5 separate regions of the Homo sapiens genome follow, and all the other regions are linked to region 3. The links come from fine-mapping of genetic effects on gene expression. A gene starts in region 3. Each other region holds a variant in brackets. All regions are shown on one strand. Distances are from middle to middle. Region 1 overlaps PIRAT1 (PU.1 (SPI1) induced regulator of S100A8 and S100A9 alarmin transcription 1). Region 2 has its middle 28 kb from the start of CDC42EP3. Region 3 holds the start of CDC42EP3 (CDC42 effector protein 3). Region 4 overlaps CDC42EP3 (CDC42 effector protein 3). Region 5 overlaps LOC107985869 (a long non-coding RNA gene).

Region 1 (5,105 bases), 160 kb after region 3:
TATAGGACCCACCCTGATAATCCAGGATGTTCTCATCTCTGAGAGCCTCAATGTAATTACATCTGCAAAGACCCTTTTGCCTAATAAGGTCACATTCACAGGTTCCAGGGATTAGGAGATACATGTATCTTTTGGGGACCACCATTCAGTTCACTACAGCTGAGCAGCTGGGATTTGACTCAAGCAGTCCAGCTCCAGCACGTGGCCTCCGACCATCACGCCATGCTCTCTCATGTGGTTACTTTTCACAGGTGTCAGCAAAATGCCTGCTCAATGATCTGAGATTTTTTTTCACAAATCATCACAGAGCTGAAATGCTCATTTTTCTGTGCTGCTACTCTGTCCATGTTCCAGAAAGGCAGCACATTAAGTCTACACCACATCACGCATCCCCTGACAGATGGAGAGAATATCAGCAAATCAGATTGCTTTCTAAAGAAAACAGAATCCAACTTTGCAAATGTTTAAAGCTTGCATATTTTCAAAATTTCAAGCAAAAGTAGAAAACCTCATTACCTCAGATCACGGTTGACAAAACTACCATTGACAAAGAATTATCCTACATGCAATGAAAACCCAATATAAGACAGTGAGTGATTGTCCAAAACGTGGGTGTTAGGTCACTACCCAGACAACAGCAGAGTTGACGGTTCTACCCTAGCTCTCTTTTGATGAGGGAAAACATTATTTTTAAATGAAGCCTGCCACTTCAGTGTAGAAAACATAAAGATGTGGACAGTCACCATTGTCATTTAAAGGGTGAGCTGTATTTCTTCTGAAGTAAAGTGATGAGTCCAGGCAGTACACTCACTCTATCAGATATGATTTGAAAAGCTGAAAAATAAACCTCTGACAATAAGATTTTAGGACAGAAATGCTGCCAGGGCTCGAAGTACATTTCAGAAGAATAAAAAGAAAGTAAACGATGCCAAAGGCCAGACAAACAAAAGGAAAATTCCTACTTCGTTTGTTCTCATGAAATGCCACAGAAAAATAATCTGTTAGGCAGCTCTTCTGGAGTCCAAGTTCTTGCGCTGTGCTCATCTCTTCTTTCTGTTAAAGCTCGGTGCTTTGCAAGCTGTCGTTAAATTGCTTACACGGATGGACGGGGCCAAGATGGTTTTCAGTCTAAAGCCAGTGAGAGTCTCAAGGCAGATTCTGAAGGCCTTGAACCACCTGAGCCTGGCCAGATGGATTCTTCCTTTCACTGTTGTGACCATTGCTTTGGTGTCAGAACCCTATGGGAGAGCTGAGTCCATGACCAGAATCCTCATGCCTTTCACAACTCCAATTAGCCAAGAGCATGGCACGGAGCAGAGGTGCTGGTGGGAGAAAACAACACATAGGTGAAAAACCTCGGGATTAGGCATTTCAAACAAGAGGCATTCATTTTGCCCGACACCCAGAGTTGCCCCATAAACAAGCCAGAAACTCAACCAGGCGGTGACGGAACAAGGAATGGATGAGTGACAAACTGGGCTGTTGATTCTGTTGTAACTGAGGCTTGACTGTATTAACAAGCATGCAGTGATTAAACAGACCAGCACCAGAATTTTAGCAGCTACCTTGAAGCCTGCTGACTGACACTGTCCCTGGAGCCCCTGTTATAATGAGGTCCTTGTGATAACTTACTCCCTTGGATAGAGTCCAAGACAGGCACGTGCCCTGTGGAATTCCACACTGTAACCAACCATACTTCAGAGAGATTCCAGAATAATGATGGTATTGCTTATTTAGGCTGAAGGTTATCTGCTCCTCCTCCTCCAGATCCCTGCCAGCCAAGGGAAGAGCATCTCATTGGTGTCAGATGACAAGGGTCTTGTTCCCTTTACTGGAATAAGCTTCTTATGTCATACAGACTCTGGAAGTCCTGAAAAGCCATCTGTCTTGGCCTTTACTTTAGGAAAGAAAGTATCATAACCTGCCACAGCAGTGGGGACAGCTGAAGCCGGGGGTTACTATTCGCCCTTGTTACTATTCATGGAGGCTCTTAGGGAAATGACCAAAAAGCTCTTTATGGCTCTTGCAATTAATCCTGAAATTCTGGTTGTCACTTGTGGGTAGAAACATATGGTTTACAAATGGGTTGATGATTATTATTTCAAGGAAAAACTAAAACATTATAATGAGAGTTATAACATAATGGTGGGACAGTATAAATAGGGAGAGAATTTGTAGTGTTTTCTTGTTCGTTTTGTTACATGAATAGACAGCTAGGGGAAAATGGCATTCTATGGGGAACTGATGGGATTTATTTAATATTTATTTAAATAAATTTATTTATTTATTTATTTAGACACCTCTTTTTTCCCGTCTAAGTTATAAACTAATTAAGAGATGGACAAAGAATAAGGTAAAGGAAGGTCAAAATATTACCTTGGGCAGGGTGCAGTGTCTCACACCTGTAATCCCAGCACTTTGGGAGGCCAAGGCAGGAGGATCACTTGAGTTCAGGAGTTTAAAATAGCAACATAAGAAGAATCTGTCTCTCCAAAAAAGAAAAAGAAAAGAAAAAAAGGAGGTGAGGTGGCACATACCTCTAGTCCCAGCTACATGGGAGGCTAGGGTGGGAGGATCACCTAAGCCCAGGAGGTCAAGGCTGCAGTGAGCTGTGATCACACCACTACACTGCAGCCTGGGTGACAGAGTAAGACTGTTCCTCAAAAAAATAAAAATAAAAATAAAAATTACCTCAGTTCGTGAAAACAGCAAAGATGTGTGGCATGACTAGCTCCATTCCCTGGAATTAGGAAATATCACCACACTTATGATGAATCTTACAAAACTTAAGCCTTCC[C/T]ACTCAGGGAGGGCCACATAGACATGAGAAAGTAGAGCAGAATGTGGTTGTTTTCCAGGGGAAGCTGGCTTCTAATGAGAAGGGAGGGAGGGAGGGCCTGGGCTTCCTGTGCAGATTCATTTCCCTTGGTTACCAGCAGGTCACTCACCCCACCTCCGTGGGCATTAGCCATGAGGCAAGAAGTAAGAGGAGTTTAGAAAAAAATCCTTGTTTCTGGAAACCAGAGAGGAGGGAGACACGGTTCACTCAATGAGTAGGAACTTCAATGGTTAAATGTGTCTTCTTGTAACAAACATCCATGTAACTATTTGAGGCCAGAATGAATTCTTCCTGGTGTTTCTTTAGGTGATTTCTCCAAGGGAGGCCTGTGGTATGCAGGGGATTTTTACCAAGACCAGCGTTCTCATGAGTCCAGAGGCTCATCTGCCCTTAGAGGATTGGAAGATTTGCATCCGCTTCCACAAGCTGCTAGCCTAATCCTCTAAGGTTCAAATCTGCCAGGGATCCATACCATGAAGGCAGTCCTCCTGAGTTTGCTTTGGAGTCTGACACTTTTCATTATGGACATCAGTGATTGACACCCTGATTGTACTTAGAATCACCCAGAGGGAGCTTTTAAAAAGTATTGGTACCCAGGCCCCTCCTCAAACTGAGAAAACTGAGGACTCTGTGGGTGAGCCTGGACATGGATGGCTTTACCAAGCTCTCCAGATGAGTCTAACGTGCACCCTGGCTTGAGAAGCATGGAGTGGCAGTCACAGAAGCCCAGGTTGGCAGCTGTCTCAGGCAGGAAATGTAGAATGGCAGTTAAAACTGTTAGCCCTGGAGAAGAATCCTGATCCCATTCCTTACTGAGTGTTTGTTAAGTTACTTAAACATTCTTAGTCTCCCCAGGGTGACCAAGGCCATCCGTAAAAGGAAATCCACTCCAGTAAGTGAGTTGAAGCCTTGGTCTTCATCATTTATGATGGTCAACGGAGAAGTTTCCTTTTGTTTGATGCCACCCTTCGTGTCTGTTGCAAATGGCAATGAGCCAGAACTCTGCCATGCAGATGCTCGGGTTATGCCCATGCCAGAGAGTCCAGTGTGGCTCAGGATCAATCAAAACAGAAAGTACCATCCTAAAGTCAGCGTCTGGATTTTCCCCGTCAAAACATTCAACTCCCATGGTATATATATTTTTGCTTATTCAATTCATATTTTGAATTCATATTATGAATTAGTCGAATTTTTAGATATGCTTAGTTGTTGGTCCATGTCACAGCTATCTAGCCTGTAAGGACCATTTCTTCTTGCTCTTATCTTGAGAAAATCACACACTGGTGCTTAGTTAATAAATAGTTCTTGATTATGGAAATAATTATGGCCTTGGAAGAATTCTGTTTATATAAGCAAGAACTCTTAGGTCTTAATCTTGCAACTGAAAGGGATCATAGAGACCCAGGTCTTCAAGTTGAAGGGAAACTTGCCGAGGGCCACACAGGCACTCAGAGGCAGGCCCAGATTTGACTGTTCTCTCTCCAAGTCCATTTTTCTTCCAACTTTATCATGTTGCCTCCCTATACAACCCTCTAAACTACTTCTCTCTCTTTTCTAAATCCATTTTTTTTCTGATTTCTCTTTCTGCCACAAATGTTCCGAATTTATGAAGAAAGAAAATGGAGAAAAGATTTGAGTAGACATTTCTGGTTTCCATGCTTGGATTGCTTCGGAGGATTAGTTTTACTGTTCCAGCTTGTTTCTTTATCAGTTTAAAGGGCAAAACAACTTCCACCCTTTTGAGGCAGCAAGAGGTCAGTCCTCTGCCATCCTCCCCCACGGCCAGGCAGAGCCAACTGCAGCCCATGGGTACCTTCCACCGCCTTCTTCCCTGGGATGGAGTCAGACAGACCTGCAGAGGGGCGACCACTCAGCTTGGGCAGCCAAGGCAATACCTGTCATCACTGTAGTGGGCTTGAAGCCCAGTGTCCTTCACTGCCAGCCTTGATGGCTTTAGCTGTGAAAACTCTCCTGACAAAGGAGGCTCTCACAGGCTCCAGTCATGGGAGCCCTACAGCCAGGATTTCAGGAAACTAGGGTGGAATGGGCAGAACAAGAGTTTGTCCAACAACTGAACAGGACAGGAGGTTCCTACTGCTTGGAAATCTATTTGTGTGTTCCAGAGATGTGCAGAACAAAGACCTACACATGGTTATTTTGGCAAGAACAGGAAGGTTTAGATTATCCTTTTCCACCCCGTGAAAGTGGCCACCTAAGATGTGAGTGTTGAAGGAACATCTGTTTTAACACTAACAGAGCCTCAGTGAGG
Region 2 (5,105 bases), 28 kb after region 3:
CTTTTCATGTCTTTTGCCCATTTTCTAATTGAATTTTTTTTAACCATTGGGTTTTGAGAGTCCTTTATATATTCTAGATTCTAGCACTTTTGTCATATATGTGGTTTGCAAATATTTTATCCCTTCCTATACTTTGTCTTTTCATCCTCTCAACAGTCTTTTACAAAGCAAACATTTTTAATTTTAGTGAAGTCTAATTAATCATTTTTTAAATGAATTGTGTATTTGGAGTCAAGTCTGAGAACTCTTTTCCTAGCCCTAGATCCCACACATTTTCCATTTTTTTAAGCAAAACTTTTATAGTTTTATATTTGACATTTAAGTCTGTGATCCATTTTGAGTTAATTTTTGTATAGGGTATGAGTTTATGTCAAGTATTAATTGTTTGTCCTTAGATGTCCAATTGCTCCAGCACCATTTGTTGAAAAGGCTAGCCTTCCTTCATTGACTTGTTTTTGCACCTTTGTCAAAAACCAGTTGGGTGTATTTGTGTGAGTCTATTTCTGGGCTCTCTACTCTCTTCCATTGATCTATGTGTCTATTCCTCTGTAAATACCACACAGTCGTGATTACATACCTTGAAATTGGGAAGACTGATTCATCCCATTTTATTCTTCTTTTTCAAAATTGTTTCAGCTATTTTAGTTACTTTGCTTTTCCATATAATTTTAGAGTAATCTTGTCTACATCTAAAACAAAAACTTGCTGAGATTTTGATAGAAATTGTGTTAAACGTATTTATTAACTTGGGGAGAATTGACCTCTTTACTACATTGCGTCTTCCAATCTATGAACACAGTATATCTCTCCATTTATTTAGATTTTCTTTTATTTCTTTTATTAGCATTTTGTAGTTTCCAGCGTACATGTGCTTTACACATTTTGTCATATTTATACCAGAGTATTCCAGTTTTTGAGCAATTGTAATTGGTATTGTATTTTCAATTTCTGTGTTTCTAGACTTTCCCTTTCTTTGTTCTTTGGCTAAAAGGAGCAGGCGTTTTAGGGGGGCTTTTCTGTCTGTACCCGTCAACGTTTCTAGGATTGCTGGCTTCTTCAGTCTGACATATATGAAGTAAAAAGAAAACCCAGGGGGCTTATCACTTTTGATTCCTTGGGTCTCAGTGTCCTTAGCTAGCTCCATAATTCCCATTACATCTTTGTGCATAATTTTTGCAAACCTCAGGGTTTTCAGCTGTGTCTGTGTTGCATTATGGCAGAAATACCCATACAGTAAACCTGAAACCTGTCCTTCAAGAACTTACAGTTTGGAAGGCTCTACATTTCTCCCATATCTAACCTAATATTTCATGGTATATTAGCTGAAACAGAGGCAAGTTTCTTGGTTGCTGAATATTTCCTCCATCTGCCTGTCATTGCCCTTAAAGCTTCACTATTTGTATTGCATTCTAGTGATTTTTTTTTTTTTTTTTTTTTTTTTTTGAGGTGGAGTCTCGCTCTGTCGCCCAGGCTGGAGTGCAATGGCGCGATCTCGGCTCACTGCAAGCTCCACCTCCCGGGTTCACGCCATTCTCCCGCCTCAGCCTCCAGAGTAGGTGGGACTACAGGCACCCGCCACCACGCCCGGCTAATTTTTTTTTGTATTTTTTTAGTAGAGATGGGGTTTCACCGTGTTAGCCGGGATGGTCTCGATCTCCTGACCTCGTGATCCACCCACGTCGGCCTCCCAAAGTGCTGGGATTACAGGCGTGAGCCACCGCACCCGGCCTGAACTTTGTTATTTTTACCAATAAAATATAATTACTACAATATCTCAGAAGTGTTCAAAAAACTATGCCCATCCAGGGGAAGAAGGGAGGAAAGCATCGATTTGGAGACTCCCTATCACACTTGGCCCTAAAGACTAATTTCAGCTTCATAGATGTATTTTATGCAGGTCTTGCATACTGACAACCTGTTCTGCTGTTTCAGATTCGTCGTTCAGTCTAGTAAATGGGCTTGCTGGTTTTTTTCAATAGAGCTTTTATCTTCTTTTTTGTTTGTTTGTTTTTGCCTATTTCATTTCTTGAAACTGAAATGCTATTTTCCTTCCTGTTAAGTGATTCATGTTCACAAAGTCTTTACATTAAAAACAAACCTCACCTTATCTAGCTGTTTCTGATTAAA[C/T]TGACCCAGTTCTGACCATTCTTTTTTTCTCCAGTTTCTCTAGAAATTTAGGTATTTGGTTTGTGTTTTAGTAATTTACATTTGCTGAAAGGTTTTCAAAAACTACGTATTGCCAAACACTGCACATGTGCATAGTCAGTTCAGACTGTAAATTCCACTGGGACACAGGCAGTCCTAGTTTTGCCTTTTCTCAGATCACCTATATCAGTTATTTTCCACAAGCCAGACACTGTAGTTCACATGCGAGAGTGCTTCTGAGTGAAACTGAATTTGAGGCATTTCAAAAAGTTACAGCATACCTAAACAGCAGAGAGGTCAAGAATGCTAGATGAATAAGATATAAATATTTAGTAGGTATTCTATTGCTGAATGAGTAAGAGTAAATGAATGCCTGCATACATGAAGACTACTGGGGCTTGACAAATCCATTTTCAGTGGAAATTATTTTGGTGCATCAAATATTTATTAAGTACCTAATATGTTCCTCCTGTCACTTTGTTAGAGCCACAGATGCAAATGTAAAAAATTTAAAAAATTCAGTCTGTGGCTCCCAGGAAAATAGACACAGGGTGAAATATACACATACTCACATGGATAATACAAGCCAAAAGTAGGATGCTGGGAGCGCTCAGGGAGATTGTAGAGCTTGGCAGGATAGCTCAGGAAATGATTCCTGGGTAGGATGACACCACTCAAAGCTTAGTGTGTAAGAGTCAACCAGTCAAAGAACGAGCTAGAGTGGGAAAGGGCATTGCAGACCAAAGGAAGGCACAGGAGCATTTTTAGCAGGATTACTGCAGTGAAGGACAAGTTGTTTAGTATTATTAAAGTATAAAGTGGATAGTAGCAATTTGGGAGAGTTAGGACTGGGGAGGTAGGTAGAGACAGATAATGAAGGGCCTGTTTTTCCCAAGAAGGGGCTCAGCCAGGCTTGGAAGAGTCACTGGATTACCACAGGCAGAGGAGAAAAGGAGAAAAGGTCAACTCTGTGTTAGAGCAATTCCTTTGGCAGCCAGGTGGAGGATGGATTTCCTGAGTAAATTAAAAGCAGGAAAAGAGTGTGATAATCTAGGCAGGAGATAATTGAGGCCTTGAACTGGACTGTGATAATAGAAACACAGAGAAGGAATGGATTAGAGGACTATTTAGCAGGAAAAATTGTCAGACTTGGTGGTGATAGAATATGGAAGATGAAAAAGAAAGATGAGTCTAGGTTGACCGCCAGATTCCTGCTTTGGGAGACTGGGTAACTTTTGCGTCGTTGTGTCATGGAGGTGGGGGAAGAGAATGGATGATGTTGTGAAGATGACAAGTACAATTTTGTACTTGTTGAGTTGGAGGTACCTATGAGGATATTCAAGTGAATGGAGGAATACCTTCAACTGGGGAAGGCTATTTGGGAATGCCATGTTCTTAAGGGCGAACCAGGTTTCAGTTAAGGTCAGGAAGTGAAGGGAGTGTCTGCAAAGAGATTGAAGATGTAGGATGGTTGGGCTGTCACGGAAAGAAAGTTCCAGAGGACACAGTTGATAGCTAGGAGGCAGGGGTGGGGGAAGAGTGATTGGACAGAGACAGGAGGCTTAGAGTCCCATGAAATCAGTGTATGAGACAGTCAGGGAGCATCAGCAACATCATCATCAAGCAGTCACCTTGGTCTGGTGAGTGAAGAAGACATGGCTTTTGTCTTGGTAGGGTCAGCTGGCCTTAAGGATCTTCCATGGAATTTAGGACTTTAGGCAGGACAGAGTCTGAGTTTGTCTTTGGGTGACTCCAGTCAAGGGCGGTTAATATTGGTAGTGACTTTGGAGTCTGTGATGTGGTCTCCAGGCAGCAGTCCCCATGAACTCTACAAGCTGTGTGGTGAGTGGAAACCAGACTGGCTCCAAGATAGCCATCTATATGATTTTATCTAAAAATATACATCAATCAGAAAGTTAACCAGAAGGTTCACATTTAATTAACCAGAATATTTCAAATTTTCTTCTACACTGGTAATGGAGACAAAGTAAGGAAAAATAGAGAGGTCGAGAAAACACATAAATGCTGAGAACCACATAAATTAACTACTGCTTTGTTACTCAGAAATAATTTTGAAGTCATTTGCAGGAGTAAAATGAATTTCTAGAATAGATGCTTTTTCCTTATACAATCCAACTTCTAAAACCCTCTGAAATCTGATTATTTTTACTGAATGCTACCAATACGGGTATTGTAGCTGAGCATGTGACTTAAGAAGTTCAACAACAGATAAATGCCCTAAAATAGAAAGCCATTTTATTTTATTTTATTTTATTTTACTGAACAAGTATATGCTTTTTATTCATCATTATTCCCTAAACAATACAGTATAACAAACATTTACATAGCATTTACACTGTATTGAGTATTATAAGTAATCTAGAGATGATTTAAAGTATACAGGAGGATATGCATAGGTTATATGCGAATACTGTGCCATTTGATTAATTAATTATTTCCATAAGTTATTGGGGTACAAGTGGTATTTGGTTATATGAGTAAGTTCTTTAGTAGTGATTTGTGAGATTTTGGTGCACCTATTGCCTAAGCGTTATACCCTACACCATATTTGTAGTCTTTTATCCCTCGCGCCCTTGCCACTCTTCCCCCCAATTCCCAAAGTCCATTGCATCATTCTTATGCCTTGTGGCATCATAGCTTAGCTCCCACATATGAGTAAGAATATATGATGTTTGGTTTTCCATTCCTGAGTTACTTCACTTAGAATAATAGTCTCCAATTTCATCCAGGTCACTGCAAATGCTGTTAATTCATTCCTTTTTATGGCTGCGTAGTATTCCATCATGTGTATATATACACCACAGTTTCTTTATCCACTGTTGATTGATGGGCATTTGGGTTGGTTCCACGATTTTGCAATTGTGAATTGTGCTGCTAGAAGCATGCATGTGCAAGTATCTTTTTCGAATAATGACTTCTTTTCCTCCGGGTAGATGCCC
Region 3 (5,105 bases):
TGGTGAGGCACACAAGATTTTGTGGCTGGCTGAATCCAGTATTTTCAAATGGCTATCCTTGTTCTCTGGCAAACATACTGCATTTAAAAATAGATTTCTCATTCAATCAATGAAAAGAAATACAGGTTCACAGGATTCTGGTTAGTAAGAAATGAGACTGGGCCTAGATAAAATCTGACTGAAAGCAAGAATCTGAATAACAATAATAATAATAATAATACGATCAGAGCAGTCTTCTTGGAGGTTTTTAGGTTACGAATTATATTCCACCCACTGGATAAATGTTACAGTTAATGGTCAAAGAATTTGTGAAAAATCTATGGCCTGGCTAAAAAAAAAAAAAAAAAAAAATCTTTGGGTGATACAGGTGAAAGCAATTTTATCCCCAACACTGTTGAATACCAGGAACTTTATACATGAAAAAAGCACAGCTTTTGTGAGCATGTTGGACATAAAACAAAACACCACATTAAAGGAAAGGCTGGAGCGCAGACAGGGCAAATGAACTCATGTGAGCCCTTCTGCAATCACTGTTACGGCTTTGTATTTATTCATCTTGCACCGCACTTAAATGTGCAATAAAAAGCAAAAAGTGTGCAACACTTATTACTCTAGCTGCTTTTACTTGTTCCATAGAGATACGTGAAACAATTTCACTGCTCAGATTGAGGGAAAGAGGAGCTCATCTCATTTCAAGCCTGTAGCTGCTGCCACAGCCTCAGCACCATGTTCTAATCATAGAATTCATCATGTAAATCTCTAGCAGATGATGCCATTGGAAAACAGAAACTGCCATGGATCCAGAAATGCTTCCAAATTTCTCCTCTAAAGTTCTTATCTGTGAGCCCAGAGGCTGGTGCTGTTTTATTCAAATGGGTGAGGCCCATTGGGAAACCCGCATTCTTTGGGAGACTTTATGAAGAATTTCAACCATTCCTTGACTATAGAAAGGGCCTTTATCATTTATTTCACATATGAAAATGCTAAATATTTCACAACTACTCCAACTTATTTCTGAGTGTCTAAATCTATTCTGAAAAGGGTATGCATCACACACATACCTGTGTAGCTTATTAACTACCAATAAGAGCTCACACAAATTGCAGGGGGTATGAAAGAGTAGACTTCTGGAACTGTCCAGAAAAGAAGAGAAGGTACATTTCCTGGTTTTAAGATGAAAGAGCTTGTGTAAATTAGAACATTACAGGAGCCTTTTAAATTGTCTTAGGGATACCTTTGGGGCATCATCGCTGGTTCCTGGTGAGTCTTTTTTCTCCCTGTGATGTTAACAGGAAGTCCCTAAAACTGGCTTTGCTATTAAAATACAGACATCTGCTGCTCTCCTAATTTTTGTTCCTTTTAAAAGGCAGTACTCCCAAGAAACTCTTGGATATTGTGAGAATTAAGAGCTGGGAGATGGGGATGGAATCTTTGTCTCCCTAACACATTCATCAGTTCCCTCCCTAGAGCCCCCCTACAACCTCAGCACACAGCAGCAGCCCACTCCTCCAAATACGCCAGGGCTGGAAAGATTCATGTTGCAATACCCTCCTGACATTCCTCATTTTAATTCGCTCACTTTTTTTTTTTTTTTTTTTAAACAAAATGTAATTACTTGACTGTCAGCCTAGGCTGCACTCTGGGGCTTTTACTCCTTTCAACACAGCTGCGCTCCCGGCTTTGATGCTGCTGTCCACGCAGCTTGTCCCAGCCACAGCCTGGCTCTCAGTAATGTAACATTCAAGTGCATATTTATTTTTAAACTGACCTCTCCTAGACTGCACAGTATAAAGGAGATCCTGCCCAAAAATATGCTACTTTCTATTTATAAGATGAAACACATGCCTCCCAAAGTCGAGAGAGGGATAGAGTATAATAATTCATAACGAAAAAATGGCCAGATCCATTCATCCTCACATGTCTGATACTTGTCTGTGTCAAGCCACTTAGTTTCAAGGAGAAAGGGAAGAAAACAAAAAACAAAAAACCTTGTAAACGTCTCAGCTGTTCACCGTCAAAAAACAAAAAAGTCAATATCCAGATCTGCAGGTTGGCGCCCCACTAACAATGTCCTCCATTAAGAAAGAGGAGGGCACCGGGCAGGCGATGCCACGGCAGAGCTGTGCGATGCACCCATGTGCGGCCCTGGTACCAATCCATGATGCGAGGGGCGCGGTAGCCAAGCGCGGCTTGTTCTCAGATGGAAAAATGCTATACGCGCCCAGAATGGCTCTGCCAATAGCTCGGAGGGTGCAATGTGGCCGCGCAGCCCCACCCTGAAAAGTAGTGGGCACAAATGGTGGAGCTCTGAGTCCTGGTCGTGCCGCCGGACCCCCTCCTGGCTTGCTTTATGTCCCCTTCGTTCCGTTGGACACTAGATGGGAAAGCGATGCCCTGGGTATCCCGACTCCCTGCTGGTTTCCCAGCCTAACACCAGCGCACGCCGGAAGCGGCCACGGCCGCGGGCGGGACAGACTCACAGACAGGTAGAGAGGAAGGAGCCCTGGGCTGCCCCGACTCACCGGCCGCCGCTGAGGATCCCAGCCGCTGCCCCGGGCCTCCCGCGGGCGCACGCAATCCCTGCCGCTGTGCGCAGATCCAGCCGAGTCTGCCGGCGTGGTGCCTGCTCACCGCATTATCCGCTCCGAGACGGCGTGAAGGCGCCCCAGGCCGGTGGCCGGGTCTCCGGGCTAGCCCCGCGCTGCGGTCCCCCGGCCGCGAGAGAAGGTGCGCGCGACTGAGCGCGGGGCGGCCGGACGCGAGGACTGAACCTGCGGAGGGCGGGGCGGCGCGGGGCGGGGCCGGCGGCGCGGGGACTCACTGGGGCGGGGCGGAGGGCGCGGGCAGCGGGGCCGACCCTCCCAGCCGCGGTACCTGTGCCCTGGCCCGGGGCCAACCGGTGGCCGGGCGCGCGCGCGGGGGGGGGTCACCGTTGGACCCTCGGAGGACAATGGGCGCCCATTGTTACCTCCCCAGCGCCACCCCCCAGTAGGCGACTTCTCTCGGAGAAGATGCCGCTTTCGACTCCCTAAGCACAAAGAAAGGTCGCCGGACGCTCGGTTTAAAGAGGGACCCGGAGGTGCTGCCGCCCGGGTGCACGGGGACAATAGGACTCCGCCCGCACCCCGGACTCCCGCACTAAAACTCGTGCGCCCACCTCTCCCGATCCCAACAGGCCGACCTAGCTGTGCGAGTGGCGGGCGGTGACCCGCAGGGAAGCGAGGCCACCTGAGTGCGCCGCCCCGGCCAGGCCGCAGCTCCCCAGGTCCCTCTCAGCCCGGGCTCCGGTGGGCGCGGAGGGGGAGGGTCGCGTTCTGTCAGTTTCTAGCTCGCTCCCCTCAGAGCTGCAGCCAAAACCCGGAGAGTGGAATAAGCGCCCTGAAGATGCCGGAGCTCCCGGCTGAGCAACTGGACACGCGACGAACAGCAGACGCTACAGGTTCTCCTACCCAGAGGGAGGCGTTTCTTCTCCCTCAGGGTCTTTCAAAAGGATTTGCCTAAAGCTGGGGCAAGCCGGTGGCGGCTGCCCCAGACGCGCGACGAGGCGCAAGTGGCGCAGCTGCCGGCCCGAGAGAGTAAAATTCAGGCCGCGGTGGCACCTGCGCCCGCCGGTCACCCGGCCACCGCCAGCGCCGCCGCCCGGCGCGCCCCTCCCCTCCGCCGGGGCCGGAGCGTGAACCGGGTTAATGAATGCTAATTTTCTTAATCGGCCTCCGTCTCTTCCTCCTCCGCGAGTCGTCGGCCTGGGGAAGGAGTAGGCGACAGGAAAGGGCGGTGTTTTCCGGCTGGGAGGTCCCAGCCCGCATGGTCAGCCAGGGGAGGGGGCTGGGACCCCTGGGAGTCGGACGCTGGGGGCCTGGCCTCTGCCCTGAGACTCTCGGGTTGGATGGAAATCCTGGCACAACGCGGAGAACCTCCCGGATACCTTGGCTTTGCCGAGAGATATCAGCTTCAGGTCATCACCGCGGTGCCCTGGGTCTGTCTGAAACCTTAGAGGGTGCGCCTTAAGCCGATGTTGTAAACCCAGGCTGACTTTAAGGTGAAGTGAAAAGGAAACGCACACAATCTGGAAAGCAAAATACTTGGGTGGGGTGTTAAAAGCCTCAAAGAAAAATAGTAGTTGGCAGGTCAAATGGCCATGAGGTTGGAAGTCAAATACGAAACTCGGCTGAAGTGATGTTAGAAGTTTGACAAGCAAAAACAGTCCGTGAAGATAAGAGACCCAGCATTGTTTCCCTTCTTCAAAAGACAACTCGTCCAAAGTTTCCTTTGGCAGATACCTGGATTCTACTCCAGATTCCTGAGCATTTTACTTGGGTTTCATATTTCAAAATATATGTTCCATTTGGCACTAATGTATATATTTTATATATTAATTTATTGAAAAATATTAAATGTTCCTGGCCTACTTAGAAAAAGGTATTTTTATAAATATTTATGCATAGTTTTCATTACATAGGGTATTTTATAAGTCCAAATAATATGTGTATATATATAAAATACCACATGCAAAATTCCTTTTGAACACATAAAGACATTCCCGACACACATGTCTTGTATGTAATTTTTTTCACGTGATCTATTGTTAGCTGCTGTTAAAAGCACTTTATTTCTACATGGCCAAATAAATAACTTCTTTTACAGTTTTTGCAAATATAGAGTGGCAGTTTGTCTGAAACGGCATTTTTATTCTAAAACCTATTTTTACTTTTCTACATTATCCCTTGCCTTTTAGAGGCTTTCTCTCCCTCTGCCGTTTTTAAATGAGACTTCACTGCTGGACTCTAAACAGTTATCCAGGACCTGCTCATTCAAGGGCCTGGTGGTTTGATTTATCTTGGCTCCTTTGGCCTCGCCTCCCCACCCCTCCCCTGCCCTCCCCTCCCCACCCCTCCGCTTCCCTCCCCTCCCCTTCCCTTCCTTTCCTTTTTTTTTTTTTTCCCCCAGGGTCTCAAACTCCTGGCCTCAAGTGATCCTTCTGCCTCAGCCTCCGAAAGTGCTGGGATTACAGGCATGAGCCACCATGCCCTGTGCCTCACGTTATTTCTTTGTACTGAACATCTTCAGTGAGTAACTGATCCCTCATATAGTGAATTATTCTTCCA
Region 4 (5,102 bases), 24 kb before region 3:
TTAAAAATAACTTAGTTACAGTAATACTTTGCCTGTGTCTTACCAACATGTAGCTGACAGTCAAAATTTTGCAATATAGATATAATATATAGGGATATATAAGAACTACAAGAAAATCCCCAAAACCCATAAAGTTCAAATGTGAAAACAGAAAAGTTTTAACACTGGAGAATTCGCTATGGTGAGCCTAAGCAATATATAGAAAAGAGTCTACAAAAAGGCTTAGGTGTTAAATAAATTTTGACTTCCTCTTGCTCAGAAAATGTCGGAGTGCTATAAAGTTCCGTGAAGTTCCTTAATGTGACTCGCTCAGCCCTTCATAGCTAGTGCCAATCCTGGCCAAGCCAGATTTCTTGTGTGTCTGCAAACAATATGTGAGCCGAACATCACCAATGCCTCCTGAAAATGGGCTCTGACTCACTTCCTTTTTTTGCCAAGATAGGTTTTGCTTTGTTGTTTTTTTCTAAATTGTTTTTGCAAACAGGGCATAACAGGTAAAAAAATACTTTGTAAGAATATTATTTTAGAAAACCCAACACAAAACTGCAAATACAGCTCCGGAAGCCCTTCTCTTCAACTGTGGTTAGTTTGTTTTTGTACCTTTTACCCCAAAGGAAAAAAGTTGGCATCTTGTTACTTATTTTTATCCATTACATTCAGCACCTCATCCAAAAGTGAGGGCCCAAGATCAAGCTGCAGGGAGAGGAGGGAACCTGTAAGGTCAGAGAGGGACTCCTCTGACTTAGTCTTTCCCTTGATGAGCTCGCATGGGGTGGGATGGTCAAACATGTCCTCGGCTGGCCAGTCGGGGTACTGTTCGGACAGGCTGGAGGAGTGGCTGTCTCTGCCTTGGCTGGACTGAGATGCAGAACCGCTGGAGCCCCACGAGGTGTCTCCCTGGTGGACTGTCCCATTCTCCAACAGACTGCTTTTCTCCTGAGCTTTTTCCTCCATGACGGGCTCGCAGCTAAGCCTGGGCAGCTTTGCTGGCCCGAAGGACTCCTGTTTGGAATTAAATGTCACTGGTGACAATAAGGGCAACATGAGAGCTTGGGATCCTCCAATGGTCGGGAGGGAGATGGCATTTTTGAGCACCGGGGAGGGCGTTTCTGTGAACACAGAGTCCGAGGTGCTGTTGGCCCGGAAGAACTCATTATGCCCAGGGAACTGGCCCAGGTGTGCTTTCTCCTGGTTTCCAGGTAAAAGCTCGTAGTTCCCTTGAAGAAAGGAAATATCTCCAAAGACATCGTGCTGGCCCTCTTTGCCAATGTGGATGGTGTGGCGAAAGTCTCCAAGCGGGGGACTGATCATATCAGGAGACAGAATGTCCCTCAGTTTAAATTTCTTTCCTTTCTTGTTATTGGCTGCTTTCAGGTAAATTGGGGTCTTGGCTGGCATTTTGGAATTTGAGAATGTCTATTTTGCAAGCGGGAGAAAGGGCCACTTTCTTCACAGATGGTATATGTTTCTGAATCCTTTTTGATAGGAACTGTCACATCATTTTTCTCAAGTGGCTTCAGAAGTGGCTTCGAAATGAGATGGGGTCAAAGAGAACCTTCCTGAGGTTACGGCCAAGTGAGGCTTCCTAGAGAGCCAGTTACATCATCCAGTCTTGACCACAACCAGGACAAACCTGCAGAAGAAACCAAAGCAGGTTATAAGCTAAAGACCCTTTTGGGTGCCCTAGGGCCTCCCTTTTCACAAGAGCCTGTAAATAATGGCAGGGCCAGTTTCAACTAATGCTGAACTTATTGTTTCCCTCCAGTAAGTGGATAAAAATTTTCATCTTAGAGAAAACAGGAAAGAGAAAGACCTAAAAACCCCATATCTATGACACCAGTACTTTTTAGACATAGCCATGGGCACATCTTCTGGACATGTCTATGGTTTTAGTCATTTTCCTCTAAGAATTGCTGTAAGCATAGGATCAGTGATTTCAGCTCCTTAAATACAACTGGATTTGTTTTAAAATACATTTTCCTTTTGCTTTGATGTGCATACTAGCAACACTAATATTTCATTGTTGAGTTCCATATGTACATAAGTTAATGCAATAAAATGAACAGTCCTAAAGGAAAGGTGCTGGAATTATTTAATAAGTGACAATAACTATTATATGCTACTGTCCTAAAAATGTTAGTGGAATACATTCTTACAGATAAGAAAACGGAGATTCAGGATAAGCCCTTCCCCTAGAAAGTTACCTTTTCTCAATAACATATAGCCAGTAAATAAGAGAGCTAGAGTTGTAATCAGGTTGTGGCAAAGTATTGGGCTGTCGAGGATGTCAGGATTTGAAGTCATTCTGAGATGGGAGGAAATGAACAAAACTGCTTCACTTCAAAGAGAAAACATTGTGAATCTCTATTACAGGCTGGGCCTTCACTTGGGAACACTTCTGAAACATTACTGATAAGGCTATATCCTCCATGCAGTAGGCAGAATTCGAAGGGAGCCCCCATGATCTGCCTCCTGGTGTTAATGCCTTTGTGAGTAGAACCTGTGACTGGCTTCTAAACAAGGGAATGTGGCAAAGGCAATAGGTCCCTGATTAGGTTACATTATAGGAGATTTCATCTGAGCTGACAAGGGAGAAGACTCCCTGACTCCCTTTGCTGGCTGTGGAGAGGTGAGCAGTTACACTGTGCAAGGGCCTATGGAAATGAAATCTGCCAACAATGTTGGGGAGCTTGGAAGTAGATCTTTTCCCCAGTTGAGCCTCTGATGAGACCACCACCCTGACCCACACTGAATCATAACTCAGGGAGATGCTGGAACTCAGCCCTGCCCAGATTCCTGACCCACAGAACCTGTGAAATGGTAAATGTTGTAAGCCCTCAAGTTTGTGGTCGTTTGTTACCAGTGTAGAAAGCAACACATCCTCCCTGCACATACTATATGATAAGATTAGGAGGGATGAGCTACAAGGCATTGGGGTTGTAATGT[G/C]CTCTTTTGCCAATGAGATGCTCTTATCTCTTGAAAATAATCCTCCACCTCTGATGCTGACACAGAGAAGCTAAACCCTTTCCCACTGCAGGAACTTCCCAAATGGCTCTGCCATGACCTCTTCCCTCAGGCGCTCCTCCCACTGGCTGCAGAGCCTGCAAATAAATACTCCAAGGGCTGGGTGGGTTAGTTGGTGTTTTGAAGGGAGCCACATTTGCTTGTAGCAGCTGGAGGCTGTCTGCATCTGCCCCATATTTCTTTCCTTTCAGCAAGAGTTTTAAATTCATTTACCAGTGGCAGGTGACAAGAACTGTGCTCCACCACCCACTGGCTCAGTAACAGCTAACTCAATTTGGGAAGCAGCTAGCTCAGCGTGTCAGCATGCTGGCCAGCAACCCAGGCCGGAGAAGGCTGAGAACAATGCACTAGAGAGAGCCAGCCCCACTCGGGCTTTGGGTATGGGGAGGAGGCAGAGAAAGTACGAGGAGGTTTGCATTCATGCAGAGTGGGCTGACCATGGGGCTGCCAGCAATGACATGATCGTGGGTCCTGACACTCGTTCTCATAGTTTTAGCTCTAATTTGGGTCTTGTTGTGGTAACAAAAGTTGAAGCCCATGTTCTTCCTGTTAAAACATCAGAACTTCCTTCCTGTATGAGTGTACAATGCCTAGTCCTGGCCTCGGGCCCCCTGCTGTTCAGAGGTGGCCTCCCTGCCCTTTGGGCACAGTGTGGCTGACTGCCTGCAGGAGCAGCTGGGTGGCCTGAGGAACAGCTGCCCACAGGAGTGGTGTCCTCAGCACACACGGCCAGGAAGGCAGCTGCCATGGAAAGATACAGCGTGTCCACCACAACTCAAGGGCATGCCAGGGCTGCCTGGGGTCAGCTGATGGAGGCAGGGTTATGCAAGGCCAGGTCCCAGGGCAGGGGGTTCCAATTATTTAAAAAAAAAAAAAAAAATCGATCACTTAAGGCCTGGAGTTTGAGGTCAGCCTGGGCAACATAGCAAGACCCTGTCTCTATGAAAAAAAAATTAGCTGGGCATGGGGGCACCCGCCGGTAGTCCCAGCTACTCAGGAGGCTGAAGCAGGAGGACTGACTGAGTCCAGGAGTTTGAAACCAGCCTGGGCAACATAATGGGACCTCATCTCTACAAAAACTTTCTTAAAAAATTAGCTGAGAATGGTAGCACACACCTGCAGTCTTAGCTACTTGGGAGGCTGAGGTGGGAGGACTGGTTGAGCCCAGGAATTCAAGGCTGCGGAGAGCTATGATTGTACCACTGCACTACAGCCTAGCAAGGCCTTGTCTCAAAAAAAAAAAAAAAAAAAAAAAAAAAAAAAAAAAAATCCCATGAAAATGTAGCCAGAGAGCAGTTCCCTGCCACTCTGACTGGATCATTCACATACACCCTTGAATTAAACAAGGATTTGGGACAGTGAGGAGGAAGAGCAAAGGGGGAGAAAGTGTGTGCTGCTGAGGGTGCAGGGGAGGGAGGGCCCAGTCGGTAGGCTGGTGGGGGCTGGGCACCCACCAGGGAGCAAGATGCTCGTCAAGCCCCAGCCTTTGGTCAGTCCTTGCCCAGCCACAGGCACCAGCACCAGGGGCCTCCAACCAGAGGCTCACTCATCCTGCTTGAAGTGGGGCTTCATGTCGGTGGCATGGAGGCAAAGGTTGGAGGGAAGCAGCAAAGAAAAAGGCAAGAAAAGGGTTGGTGGGGAGGCTACCTAAGCTGTAGTGAGATTCTGGTGAGTAGGAGATACTGGAGAAGATACCTTCAGAGGCATTTTGCTTTCTTTCTACAAATATTTACATCATATTTACTGCATGATGGGGCATAGGCTTCTAGGACTATAGAAAAAAATAATTTGAATTGAATCTGAATTGCCAATCCTAACAGCTCCCAAATACCCTGAAAGTTAAGAATTTTGGGCAAAATGTCAGTTTTACAACTCTAGGTAAGTTGACGTTTGTGCTGCTGGGAAAGTATCTGGCAGCTCTGATCTAGTCCTTCTATTGCATCTGTTCTCTTCCTCCCCAGCTCAGGGGCAACCATGATTGATCCCAGGAGAGTCAATCCAACGCTGATAATCCAATGCCCATAATTTCTCGAACTGACCACTTCCTTCTCTCTCCTTTCTGAACATTCTGGGCTAAG
Region 5 (5,105 bases), 97 kb after region 3:
TGACAGAGAAGTTCTCTGGTGCATTCTGAAGCAAATAGAAAGAAAACAACAAAAATCTTAGAAAACTCGTAACTGACAAAATCAACTGCATTTGTTTTAGTTTGGAAACAGCACCAGCACCAGTTTCTTTCTTCTAAAAGAGTAAGAATTCACAGCAAGAATATTATTTTTGTTTACAAGAATTGTGTCTGAACCCTCTAAAATACGACTGTCAAGTCAAATGTCAAGAATGTTAATTAGTGAAAGGAAGGGGAGGAGTTGACGGGAGGCAGGCCGTCAGCACCAGCTCACTCTGTAAACAGAGCTGTGTCTTGAATTCCACAGCAATGGCATGGAGGCATTCTTTGAAAAGAGGAGATAATAGATGATGAAGTATCTAGCAAAAAAGATATGAAAAGCTTCTGTCCAAACACTGTTTATCAAACAAATATACTCTGATTGTAAACTGCCTAAAACTTGAGTTTCAGTTTGTTTAGCTCACCAGCATGTGAGTGTGTATATTCACTATTTGAGTTTTATTTCAGTTCTTCTCATTGAGGTCATTCCTTGTTTGAATTAGCTCATGCCCTCTGTTCAGAGGATCTCTTCAAAGTAGATTACAAGATTCAGAGATATTTTTTAAGTCCATTGATAAGTTCTCCAATTCTAAATATTCCACTGTTTAACCATCGGCCCATTAGCCCAGGCACAAAACAGGGAAGAAAGATACACCCGCATTAAAAACCAACAGGTTTTTTATTTCCTCAATGCTCCTGTGTCTTACCCTATTTAGAAATCATATGGCATATGCAAATAGATGTGGATAGGTTTGACAATTAAGTTATTATTTTATTTTTCTTTTAGACCTAGAGTTTAACCAAAACCATCGCTTCCATGCAACATCGCCCCAAATTCAACAGAGTGGGACTTGGCAGACAAGTTTTAATTATAGACCTTGCATCTATCTTGTGTCCATCAATATCATGGTTAACTTGGAAGTTAAAGAGGCATTTTGCAACATCACAGGTCTCTTCTCAACTCATTTAAAATTAATCCCAGTTAAAATAAAAAACACAAATCAAACAGGGCATTTTTCATATTCATTTTGTAGGTGCACTGTCAGAATTATAAATCAGCTTTGCCTAAGGAGTAAAATGAAACACACCCAAATGTAGTATTTTTAGGAAAAAATGTCTGGAAATGAGTGCATATGTTACTATGAATTTTTGTTAAAGATAAGCAAAACTCTAATATGCTAAAATTTATTGACTGGACAAAAATCTCCTCCACAGATGCAATTATTCACATACTCATTGGTCAAATATTTAGTGCATGCCTTGAGGATACACCACAAATCAACCCCTTCTCTGCTCCTCTTCCCCAGTCTCCAAAATCTACCTCCTACCTCCAACCCCACACTCACATGGAATTGCAAATAGCTTGATTGGATAAGCATGGACATCAGAGAAAACTCTCTGATACATTTTTGACACTTGCTAATAAAAGTATGTTGGGTGTTTTTCTTTCTACCTAAGGATGTTCCACCCATCATGGAGGGAAAATGGGGCTAAGAGAAGCCTGCCTCAGCTGGTGGGGTCATATCCACTCACAGATGTTAAGGAGTCTCCATGACAATGAGGACTTGAGGTGGGGAAGAAGAGACCCAGATATCTGCTTTGCCTTCTGTTCAAAAGCCAAGTGTCTGATTTTTCAAGTCTAGGGCTTTAAAACAAAAATCTCATTTGCAACATGCAGTCAGCAGCGGGGTGCCAAGCTCAGGACCTACCCCAAGGGGCTAGCAGCACTGTAGCCTCTGAGACCACCGTGCCACCTGGCTGTGCATTCAGATGTCATCCCTCCCCTCAGCAGGGCCAGGCTGACCACCAGACCGGCTGTAGAACCAGTTATTTGTACACCATGTTTGAAATGGACCTCAGAAATGGTACATTTGGTGAAAGTCAGGGTGTTCATAGAATTTATTATCCAAACTGGACATTTTTGAAAGAGAGAACTATTAATAATCATGCCAGGTCAACAGGCATGAGTGGAGCATGCCCCACAAAGACTTGGACACATGGCCATACCTGTATTTTTCTGTTTAGCAATTTGCAATTACTGCACACTTGAAGCATGTGTAGCTTCCCTGAGGCTC[C/T]ACCTCTAGGGTTATACTGCCTGGAAATGTATTTTGGGGAAAAACAAACTTGTTGAAGAAAATGTCCTCACAAATGTGTAGCAATAACTCTAGGGGAAGTCACATTCCCACTTGTCTTGCCCATTGTGGTTAGAGGAGATTCTAGAATTAGAAAAGAAACCAAAAAATGAAAGATCTGCTCTAAGGGCTTAATTTTGCCCTTCAGGAAACAAACATACAGAGTGGCCCGTGGGTTCTTTAAAAATGTTCCCCATCAATCTTCCACCTCCTGTTCCTTCAACTGCCTCTATCTTATTTCACTTTTTGAAAAAAGTTGTTTTATCTCTGGCCTAGAAACTTTGGTACAGTTTGTCAATATCAGGAAGTCCATTAAGTAAGATTGCATATTATCCTTGCCAGAGCACGGCTGGCTGTCCAGCAGACATCATTTTATGTTTTTGTCTTTCTTTATTTGAAATACCTTTGATGTATCATCTCAGACAAAAAATGTAGTTGTTCAACAGCTCAGGGAAGAAAGCCTGAGCTTGCCACAGGAGGAGACAGGGCTAAGGCTGGGGAGTTGGGGGGAGTGTAAATAAAGTAGAGGACTGGGCAGAGCTACAAGAAATATTTAGCATTCCTGGCTTCCCACAAAGGGTAGGTCAAGGAGAGGGAATGAGCAGTTGGGATGGAGCGTACACCACAACTATTCTTTTTCGGTCCTAATCCAGTCCACTGTGACACATAAATGTCCCCAGTGGGCAGACCCCGAGTTTATTGTGTTGTGTGGCAAATGCTGAGTAATTACACACGATGCCTGTCTATATGCAGGATGGGGTCAAACTCTGTGGCAAAGACACAGCTGCTGGTTTCATGGCTGTGTGACAAATCCACTTTTGCTAACAATCGTCAAAGCCATATTCATAACACTATGTGTTTAAGGGATTGAGCACTAAAAGTCCGCTTCCACAGGCCCCTGTCAAAACAAAGTCCACTTCTTTACAGTGTGCCCACAGGCTGTCTGTGTCAAAAACCTGGTGTCACTTTTTGGAGTGGGATCTTGGAAGAGGAGCCATGCTCACTGTTGTTTGCCTGGATAGTGAATTGAAGATGGGGCTCTCTTTTCTTGAAACTCTCGGCGGGGTGGGGGGGGAAAGAAACGCGCCTTAGCATCCAAAATAAAGACAACCACACATACACCAAAACAGAAACAGCCATTTTGTTTTTAAAAGATCTGGTCATTGACAGGCTTTCTTTCTGCCCCGCCACTATGGTCTTCTCGGGTTAATTCATCTCCTGCTGCTGCAGGATCTATAAAATACTGTATTGAGATGACTTCAGTAGGTTTCCAACAGTGGGATTTTCCAGCTACTGGAAATACCCAAGGCCAGTGTAAACTCATTTGTTTTTCTTAATTTGAGCCTTAATTGCAGAGCCTACTTTTTGCTGGATGCTAATCCTCTCAAGCACTTCTGAGGCAAACACTCTAGGAGAGGATGTGGACAGAAGTACCCACGGAAAAGGGGACACTGTGACAAAGGGGTCAGCAGGTGAACAAATGTCACATATACCTCCTCTGTGTCATGCGGATGAGCAGGTTCCAGGTGATGAAAGTGAGAAGGTGCCTCCCATTGCAGGGCCCTAGCAACATAATGCTGTTCAGAATGCTCTTAATACAGAAGTGCCTATATTAGTCAGTGTTCTCCAGAGAAAAGGAACTACTGGGAGAGAGAGAGATTAGAAGGAATTGGCTCACACAATTATGGAGGCTGGCAAAGCCCAAGATTTGTAGGGTGAGTTGACAAGCTGGAGACCCAGGAGAGCCAATGGTGTAGTTACAGTATGAAGGCGGGCAGGCTTGAGGTACAGGTACACTTCAAGTCCAAAGGCAGCAAACAACTAATTTTTCCTTCTAGTTCAAAGGTCATCAGGCAGAATAGTTTCTATCATGTTTAGAGGAGGGTCAGCCTTTTTGCTCTATTTGGACCTTCATCTGATTGGATGGGGTCCACCTACATATGGTGGGCAATCTGCTTTCCTCAGTCTACTGATTCAAATGTTAAATATCATCCAAAAATATCCTCACATAAACATCCAGTATAATGTTTGACAAAATATTTGGGCACCATGTGACCCAGGCAAGTAGACACATAAAAAATAATCATGGCAGCACCTGGCCATGAAATGATAAAACCGAGCTTCAAATCTAGCTCTGTCTGACTCCAAAACCCATATCCTTTCTACCACTGTAGTGACCGATTTTGTTCTCAGGAAACTTAATTGTTCTTAAGGAGGTAAGATTTATAAACATTAAAAACTCTGCTTAAGAAAGGTATGTGAGGCCAGGTGCGGTGGCTCACATCTGTAATCCCAGCACTTTGGGAGGCCGAGATGGGCAGATCACCTGAGGTCAGGAGTTTGAAACCCTCCTGGCCAACATGGAGAAACCCCATCTCTACTAAAAATACAAAAACAAGCCGGGCGTCGTGGCAGAGGCCTGTAATCCCAGCTACTCGGGAGGCTAAGGCAGGAGAATCACTTGAACCCGGGAGGTGGAGGTTGCAGTGAGCCAAGATCATGCCATTGCACTCCAGCCTGGGTGACAAGAGCGAGACTTCATCTCAAAAAAAAAAAAAAAAAAAAAGGTATGTGACATAATGTGTTACATTATGATAAATGATCAATCATATTAATCAGATAATTGACCCATCAGCTGTAAAGTGTGAACCATGTTTACACCCAAGTTTTATTCCCAGTGGTGTAAATGTCCTTTTTTCACTATTTCTTGAGTAGGATACCAAGTGTAACACACACTGGAGTGTCTTTCAACTCCACAAGGAAGCTGGAACTCAGAGGGGTCTGGACCTTCCAGGCAAGTCCCTGGCTCTGCTCAGGAAGTCTAGCCATCTGCTGATGCCATGTGATATGGTTTGGCTGTGTCCCCACCCAAATATCATCTTGAATTGACCTGGTAGCAAGTAATTGAATCATGGGG

The links.
Region 1: its variant is fine-mapped to the expression of CDC42EP3 in whole blood (TOPMed, PIP 0.99).
Region 2: its variant is fine-mapped to the expression of CDC42EP3 in whole blood (INTERVAL, PIP above 0.99).
Region 4: its variant is fine-mapped to the expression of CDC42EP3 in whole blood (INTERVAL, PIP 0.99).
Region 5: its variant is fine-mapped to the expression of CDC42EP3 in whole blood (TOPMed, PIP above 0.99).

The regions. Positions count from the first base shown.
Region 1 is chr2:37,826,557-37,831,661 of GRCh38, forward strand. It overlaps PIRAT1 (PU.1 (SPI1) induced regulator of S100A8 and S100A9 alarmin transcription 1), which reads right to left. Exons shown (of 4, transcript NR_110012.1): 3 at 2,377-2,482; 4 at 1-1,322. Among named protein-coding and RNA genes, the nearest start is that of PIRAT1, 47 kb to the right of the region's middle. The variant C/T (reference allele first, on the strand shown) is at 2,798.
Region 2 is chr2:37,696,631-37,701,735 of GRCh38, forward strand. No RefSeq gene overlaps it. Among named protein-coding and RNA genes, the nearest start is that of CDC42EP3, 28 kb to the left of the region's middle. The variant C/T (reference allele first, on the strand shown) is at 2,128.
Region 3 is chr2:37,668,904-37,674,008 of GRCh38, forward strand. CDC42EP3 (CDC42 effector protein 3) reads right to left here and starts at 2,739. Exons shown (of 2, transcript NM_006449.5): 1 at 2,523-2,739. RefSeq lists silencers at 2,528-3,017, 3,188-3,247, 3,258-3,327, 3,548-3,717.
Region 4 is chr2:37,645,190-37,650,291 of GRCh38, forward strand. CDC42EP3 (CDC42 effector protein 3) reads right to left here. Exons shown (of 2, transcript NM_006449.5): 2 at 1-1,633. The coding sequence starts at 1,398. The coding sequence ends at 634. Among named protein-coding and RNA genes, the nearest start is that of CDC42EP3, 24 kb to the right of the region's middle. The variant G/C (reference allele first, on the strand shown) is at 2,947.
Region 5 is chr2:37,765,936-37,771,040 of GRCh38, forward strand. All of the region lies in intron 2 of LOC107985869 (a long non-coding RNA gene), which reads left to right. Among named protein-coding and RNA genes, the nearest start is that of CDC42EP3, 97 kb to the left of the region's middle. The variant C/T (reference allele first, on the strand shown) is at 2,132.